Regions from separate parts of the Homo sapiens genome. Here all the other regions are linked to region 2. Evidence: fine-mapped expression QTL. A gene starts in region 2. Each other region holds a variant in brackets. All regions are shown on one strand. Distances are from middle to middle.

Region 1 (2,761 bases), 89 kb before region 2:
GAAACATTACCAGACCAGATTACCACTGCAGGCTCAGGCAGCCTGCTTTTATTCCCTTATCTGGCCCCACCCACATCCTGCTGATTGGTTCATTTTACGGAGAGCTGATTGGTCTGTTTTACAGAGAGCTGATTGGTCCGTTTTGACAGGGTGCTGATTGGTGCGTTTACAATCCCTGAGCTAGACGCAAAAGTTCTCCAAGTCCCCACTAGATTAGCTACACACAGAGCACTGATTGGTGCATTCACAAACCTTGAGCCAGACACAGGGTGCTGATTGGTGTATTTACAATCCCTTAGCTAGACATAAAGGTTCTCCAAGTCCCCACTAGACTCAGGGCCCAGCTGGCTTCACCCAGTGGATCCCGCACCTGGGCGGCAGGTGGAGCTGCCCACCAGTCCCGCGCCGTGTGCCTGCACTCCTCATCCCTTGGGCGGTGGATGGGACTGGGTGCTGTGGAGCAGGAGGCGGCGCTCGTCGGGGAGGCTCGGGCCGCACAGGAGCCCACGGTGGAGGGGGGCTCAGGCATGGCAGGCTGCAGGTCCTGAGCCCTGCCCCGCGGGGAGGCAGCTGAGGTCCTGCGAAAATTCGAGAGGTCCTGCGAAAATTCGAGTGCAGCGCCGGCGGGCCGGCGCTGCTAGGGGACCCGGCGCACCCTCCACAGCTGCTGGCCCGGGTGCTAAGCCCGTCACTGCCCGGGGCCAGTGGCGCTGGCCGGCCGCTCTGAGTGCGGGGCAGGTTGAGCCCACGCCCACCCGGAACTCGCGCTGGCCCGCAAGCGCCTTACGCAGCCCCGGTTCCTGCCCGCGCATCTCCCTCCACACCTCCAGGCAAGCTGAGGGAGCCGGCTCCAGCCTCGGCCAGCCCAGAAAGGGGCTCCCACAGTGCAGTGGCAGGCTGAAGGGCTCCTCAAGCGTGGCCAGAGTGGGCGCCGAGGCCGAGGAGGCGCCGAGAGGGAGCGAAGGCTGCAGGGGCTGCCAGTACGCTGTCACCTCTCACTACCTTGCATGGATGGTGGAGCCATAGTGATTGGGTGACCATCCTGGCCTCACTGCCTGCTGTGTGACCTTGGCTTTTCTAATAATGTTCTTTGAGTATTTCAGATTTATCTCTGAGGTGAAATGTGCTTAATGAGGCCCCTGGAATCATTCTAAGACCCTTGTCCTTAGAAAGAAGCTAATGATCCTCTCAGTGTGTGGCTCGGAGGAAGTGACAAAATCATGACTTCCTGACATGATAAATGGTCCGCTGTTCTGTGGTCCAGCTTTCCTTTCAATGCTCAGTTGCTGGGCTGAAAAGACAACCATATTGACTCTAGAATGTCAGTTACAATGTCTGTCCTCACAAGGGAAGTCATGATCAAACTGAAACAAGCAAGGTGTTCCCATGCTAGATGCCAGAGACAGGTTTACCCGTGGGTGAATGATGCAGTTCTTGTCCATGGTATAGGATGGGATGGTGTGGTGTCAGGGGAGGGGGCA[A/G]GAGGGGCACTGGAAGTAAGAGAGTGGGAGAAGAGGAGGGGTCCCTGTCAAATTCCCCTCAATCCTGAGAGAGACACTTAGGAACAGAGTGTCTCTGCTCCCTCTGGATATTCCCGTGTATATTTTGAAGCCTGGGAGGCAGGATGGAGGACATCCTGCTGATGCCTGAAGGATGGCAAAGCAGAATAGAAGGATGCTCCCTTAACCCCATGACCGAGCCTCTGAATTAACCAGCTCCAGTGTTTAACCTATCTCTGGACTTATTTATTTTTTTATTTTAATTTCAACTTTATTAAAATACAGTGTCCCTTTTGATTTCATTTTTTTTTTTCAGAAGGAATTTCACTCTTGTTGCCCAGGCTGGAGTGCAATGGTGCGATTTTGGCTCACCGCAACCTCTGCCTCCCAGGTTCAAGCGATTCTCCTGCCTCAGTCTCCCAAGTAGCTGGGATTACAGGCATGCACCACCACGCCCAGCTAATTTTGTATTTTTAGTAGAGAGGGGGTTTCTCCATGTTGGTCAGGCTGGTCTCAAACTCTCGACCTCAGGTGATCCGCCTTTCTCAGCCTCCCAAAGTGCTGGGATTACAGGTGTGAGCCACTGCGCCCAGCCTACAGTGTCCCTTTTCTTGTGACAGTCTTTATCTAAAACACTGCAGCTGATCGCACACAAGAAAGCCCACCTGGGGAAAGTATTGGCCTCCCTGATTGGTGAACCATTTTTGCCAACAGCAGCAGGACAGAAAACATGAGAGTTGTCACAGAGACACAAATATGCTGAAATAAATAAAAAGATATCCCATGTTCATGTATTAAAAGACCTGATAGTGTTAAGATGGCAATACTGTTTAATTTGATCTACTCCCCAGATTGATTCAGTGAAATCTCTCAAAATCCCAGCTAACGTCATTTGGAAATTGACAAGCTGATCCTAAAATGTACTTGAACACTGAAGTGACCAAGAATTGCCAAAATAATCTTGAAAAAGTTAAACATTTAGAAGACTCACACTTCCTGATCTTAAAACACACTACAGAGCTACAGTAATCAAAACAATGGGATACTACCATAAGGATAAGCATATAGACCAATGGAATAGAATTTAGAGTCCAGGAATACACTCATATATGTATGGGTAATTGATTTTCAACATGGGCATTAAAGCCATTCAATGGGGAAAAATAATCTTTTTAAGAAATGGTTCTGGGAAAACTGGATATCCACATGCAAAAGAATGAAGTTGGACCCTGTATAACACCATATACAAAAATTAATTCAAA
Region 2 (2,761 bases):
GAATGGAAGGAAATATTTGCAAATCACATCTGATAAGGGGTTAATATCCAGAGTGTATAAAGAACTCCTACAACCCAATAACCAAAAAAAAAGAAAGAAAGAAAGAAAAAGCCACTCAGATTTTAAAATGGGTAAAGGACTTAAAGAGATATTTCTCCAAAGAAGATATACAAGTGGCCACTAAGCACATGAAAGGATGCACAACATCACTAATCATTAGGGAAAAGCAAATCGAAACTACAATGAAGTATCACCTCACACCCATTAGGATGGCTATGTAAAAAACCCCAGAAAATAACAAGTGTTGGTGAGGATGTGGAGAAACTGGAACCCCCATGTACTGTTGGTGTGCACCTGTATCTATAAAATGGAATATTATTTAGCCTTAAAAAGGAAGGAAATTCTAATATATGCTGCGATATGGATGAACCTTGAAGACCTTATGCTAAGTGAAATAAGTCAGTGACAAAAATGCAAATACTGTATGATTCTACTTACATGAGATACCTAGAGTAGTCAAAATCATAGAGACATAAAATAGTAGAATGGTGGTTGCCAAGGGCTGGGGAAAGGGGGAAAAGGGGAGTTGCTTAACTGGTATAGAGACTTAGCTTGGCAAGATGAGAAGAATTCTAGAGATCTATTGCACAACAATGTGAACATACTTAACACAACTGAACTCTATACTTAAAAAGTGGTTTGGACGGTAAATTTCATATTTCCGTGTATTTTACCACATCTTTATAAAAGGGAGGCACGGACTAGTTTCCAGGTTTCATTCACATAAACATTGCAATAAAACATTTACCTTGATGCCCAGGAGGTAAATATCCCCCTCCACACCAGCACAAAGGCAGGCAAGGACCCCCAGTGGCTTTTTCCTCATGATTGGGTGGGGCAAGGGAGAGAAAAAGATGCCTCGAAACGAACTTGGAGATCTCGTGGCTCCTGGAGCAGGCCACTTACCTTGTGGGCACATCAGGGTATTGAGTGTGTCGGAAAACACTTTCCAGCTCCTCCACCTGCAACAGCGTGAACTTCGTGCGCCGAGTTCGTGGCTGCATGTTCTCGGGCTGCGGACCCTCCATGGCCGCCTGGGCCGGCTCCTCCGGCGGGGGCTGCGGCTGCTGCCGAGGCTCCTGGTTTCCACCGCCGCCCTCGGGGATCATGCCGCCATCGCGGTTCATGCCGTTCTCGTGGTTCACACCGCCCTCAGGGTTCATATTACCCATGAGGCCTGGAGCTCCTTGGCCAACATGGCCTTCTGCGCTTGATGCTGCCCCCAGCTGAGGTGTGGGGCTTATTTTTACCTGGTATACACTCAGGCAGTAGAACACGGTGTCGTGGACGAGCGAACGCGCCATGGCTGGAGCGCTGCGCCCCTGCACAAACTCCGTGGCGTCTGCAGCTGGAGTGGGGGTTAGAGGGTGGAGCTAGTTCCTGTTCTCATGCTTGGTATTGGTTACAGTTGCAATGAGTGGGACTTGCTTATGCGCACAAGCAAGAGAGGGAATGGAGAGGAGTGGGGGGATGGGAAGTTGGGGGGTGCGGGTGGGGAGTGGGGGTGTTGCAGGTGGGAGTGGGGGGTTGTGAGTGTGGGGTGGGGTGCAGGTGGGGATGGGGGTGTGGGTGGAGGGTGGGGGGTGCACAGTGAGGGTGGGGGTTGCGGGTGAGGGTAGGGGTTGTGGGTTGGGGTGGGGGTTGCCGGTGGGGGTACATGGTGGGGGTGGGGGTAGCGGGTGGAGATGGGAGGTGTGGGTGGAGGGTGCGTGGTGGGGGTAGGGGTTGTGGGTGGGGGTGAGGGGTGTGGTATGGGTCGTGGGTGGGGGTGGCAGTTGAGGGTGGAGTGGGGTGGCCAAAACACAGGGGCAGTGTGGAGAAGAAAAGGGCCAATAGGAGGCATATATGTATGCAACATGGGGCCCCAGCTTGCAGCTTTGCTGACTACACCCTACTCGGGCCTAGTTATTACCCTGAGGAAAGCTGATTTGGGGGCTCAGAGGGGAGGTGAGATCTCACGGTGACCATAGGACGCCTTGAGTAAAAGTTTGGAGAATATCTCATGGCCTGACCCTCCATATTTGGCAGCATGCACAGGGCGCGGGCTATTAATTAAGCAGAAATGATTGACTGGGGGCTGCTTGTTCAGAGTTCCAGCAAAGGCACTGAAAGCAGAGCTGCCATGCTCTCTTCAGTGCTGGGATCGGGATCTTGGAGATGGGCATGCAGAGCATTCTGGGTGGTAAGATGTGCTCTGCAAGAAATCTAACGCACCCTTTGAGAAAGTCAACACAGAATAAACACGAGGCTGAATCTGTTAGCCTGAGACTGAATATCTTTGGCTATGCAAGAGAAACCTGTACTCATGGCAAAATGGAGTGCTATAAGGACAAGCAAAAAATAAATAAATAAATAAAATCGGGGATGGTATAGGAAGAGCACCAGTAAGGGCATACCTGCCAAAAATCTCCAATCTTGGGATGGAGATTTGGGATTTAAGGATATGCAGCTTACTGGATGTGGGGCCACTTCTGCTCCACAGAGCCTTGTAACTACACAGCCTTCCTACCACTGACCCCAATAAGCCCAATTACGAAGAAAAACCCTGAAGAGCCTGGTGCAGTGGCTCCTGCACTAGTCCCAGCTACTCAGGAGGCTGAGATGGGAGGATCACTTGAACCCAGGAGTTTGAGGCTGTGGTGAGCTAGAATCACATGGCAGCACTCCAGCCTGGGCAACAGACAGAGGCCCCTTTTCTTTA
Region 3 (2,761 bases), 920 kb before region 2:
GCCAGGTGGAGATAATTGAATCATGGGAGTGGTTTCCCCCATACTGTTCTCATGGTAGTGAATAAGTCTCACAAGATCTGATGGTTTTATAAATGGGAGTTCCCTTGCACAAGCTCTCTCTTGCCTACCACTATGTAAGACGTGACTTTGCTCATCATTGGCCTTCCAACATTATTGTGAGGCCTCCCCAGCCATGTGGAACTGTGAGTCCATTAAAATCTTTTTCCTTTATAAATTACCCAGTCTCAGGTATGTCTTTATTAGCAGCATGAGAACGGACTAATACAACCCACCCCCCACCCTCACACACACACACACACACACACACACACACACACACTTACTTAAAATAGATAACAGAGAGTCATCTGGAGTCTTGACCCTAGGCTTATTGCTGCCTCCACACAGATGCAAGGGCAGCATACAACCAAGGCACAGTTGGAGAGATGAGGCTTAGATAACCCCCCAGTCAGCCTCCTGGAATAAAGGAGGATTTCCAGGTGTCTGTCTGTCACTGGCCCCTTTGCCTTTGAGGGGACTCCAGTGGTTCCCCTTGTTTAACCACCTTTCCCCTCTACAATTATAGGAGGGACCCCTTGCCTCCCAACTGTTTAAGTGCTCAGTGCTAGAAACCTACTCTGTGTTGGCCCTGGGTTAAAAAGATAGGTAAGGCAAACAAGTGACAGACAATCCCAATACAGTTTGGCCAGGGATCTGAGAGAGAGAAAAGCCCCAGGAGACTGTGGGATCCCCAAGAAGGGGGCCTGGCCTAGCCTGGAAAGTCAGGGAAGGGGACCTGGAGGAGGTGGCATTTAAGCCAAGTTAGGAAAGAAGAATGAGAATGAGCAAGGCAAAGACTGCACTGGGCTGAGCTGGTCTGGGATAGGGCCAGAGAGGGGTTTAGAACAGATGGATGTGTGTGGAGGGCAGTGGTAACTCCAAGTTGTTGGGTACTGCCCTAGCTTGAACAGGAGCAATGAGAGATGGAGCAGAGTGATAGGCAGGGGCTTGCTCAAAAAAAGCCTTGTATGCCAAGGTCAGAATGACATTCTTTATACTGAAGAGTTGTAGGTCTTGAAGAACTCCTAGAAATGTTACTGGATAAACTCCGCTTGGTCATAGTGCATTATTCTTTTTATAAGTTGCTGAATCCCATCTGATAATATATTGTTGAGGATTTCTGAGTCTATATTCGTTAGAGATATTGGTCTGTAATTTGATTAATTGACTGACTGATGGACTGCTTGATTGATTGGTTTTTGGACTAGCTT[TG/T]TCTGTTTTTGGTATTAGGGTGATGCTGGCCTCATAAGGTAAGTTCTATTTTCTGAAATAAATTATGTAGAACTGCTGTTATTTTCTATTTAAATATTTGTTAAAATTTACCAATGAAGCCATCTGGGCCTGGGCTTTTCTTTGTGGAATGTCTTAAATAACTAATCCAATTTCTTTAATAATTATAGAGTTATTCAGGCTATTTAATTCATTTTGGGTAGTTTTAGTAGTTTGTGGTTTTCAAGGAATTGATCCATTCCATTTCATCTTTGTTTTTTTTTTTTATTGTTTGTTTGTTTGTTTGTTTTTTGAGACAGTCTGTCTCTGTTGCCCAGGCTGGAGTGCAGCAGCGCGATCTTGGCTCACTGCAAACTCCACTTCCTGGGTTCAACCAATCCTCGTGCCTCAGCCTCTTGAGTAGCTGGGATTGCAGACATGCACCACCACACCCGGCTAGTTTTTGTATTTTTTGTAGAGACAGGGTTTCACCATGTTGGCCAAGCTGGTCTCGAACTCCTGGCCTCAAGTGATCTACCTGCCTCAGCCTCCCAAAGTGTTGGGATTACAGGCGAGAGCCACCACGCCAGGCCCCATTTTGTCTTAATTGTCAAATTTATGTGTACAGTTGTTGGAAGTACTTCCTTATTATTCCTCTAAGGTCTTCAGTGCCTGTGTTGGCATCCCCTGTTTCATTCCTGGTACTGATCATTTGTGTCTTTCTTTTTTTCTTTGTCAGTGTTGCTAGAGATTTGTTATTTTCATTGATCTTTTCAAAGAATCTGTTTTTGGTTTCATTGTTTTTTCTGTTGTTTTTCTATTTTCAATTTCATTGATGTCTGCTCCTTATTATTTCCTTCTTTTGGTTTGCTTTGGGTTTATTTTACTCTGTAGGTTTTTCAGGTAGAAGCTTAGATTATTGATTTGAGATCTTTCTTCTTATATAAGCCTTTAATGCCATTGTAGGGGCAGAAAGGGGGTGATTCCTTTTCTCCCCATTTATAAAAGGTCATAGCCAACACCCCATAACAAAAAACAAGTTAACAAGAGAAAAACATAACAAATTTATTATGTGCACATGTGTGCATGGAAGTCATACAAAACATGAACTCAAAGAGGGACCAGATGGTTGAGGCTTAAATGCTCTCTTCATAGGGGAATGGGAAATGGATGAACAAATAGGCCCAATGCTCAGACAATGGTTTGTAAATGATTCTCCTTGGAAAGATGAGAGGCAGAACTGCACAGGAACCAAAGTTGTCTTATTATGCAAATAAAGTCTCTCAGATAATCTCTGGGAGCCGTTCTTAGAATCCATGAAGGTTTGTCTGGGCATGGTGATGACTCCCAGTCTCTTCTCTTCTCCAGTGGTTGATCTTTCCTGGTTATTTCATGAGATCCCTAGGGTGGAGGTCTTAAGACAATTGCATTTCTTTTGGAAAAAAATCTTTCTTAGGCAGATAAGGAAATTCCAGAGAGAGAGAGAGAGAGA

The links. PIP is the estimated chance that this variant, and not a neighbour inherited with it, causes the effect.
Region 1: its variant is fine-mapped to the expression of RHOXF1 in whole blood (TOPMed, PIP 0.97).
Region 3: its variant is fine-mapped to the expression of RHOXF1 in gastroesophageal junction (GTEx, PIP 0.96).

The regions. Positions count from the first base shown.
Region 1 is chrX:120,025,353-120,028,113 of GRCh38, forward strand. No RefSeq gene overlaps it. Among named protein-coding and RNA genes, the nearest start is that of RHOXF1-AS1, 9.5 kb to the right of the region's middle. The variant A/G (reference allele first, on the strand shown) is at 1,482.
Region 2 is chrX:120,114,499-120,117,259 of GRCh38, forward strand. RHOXF1 (Rhox homeobox family member 1) reads right to left here and starts at 1,415. Exons shown (of 3, transcript NM_139282.3): 1 at 967-1,415. The coding sequence starts at 1,364. All of the region lies in intron 1 of RHOXF1-AS1 (RHOXF1 antisense RNA 1), which reads left to right.
Region 3 is chrX:119,197,658-119,200,418 of GRCh38, forward strand. No RefSeq gene overlaps it. Among named protein-coding and RNA genes, the nearest start is that of PGRMC1, 37 kb to the right of the region's middle. The variant TG/T (reference allele first, on the strand shown) is at 1,272.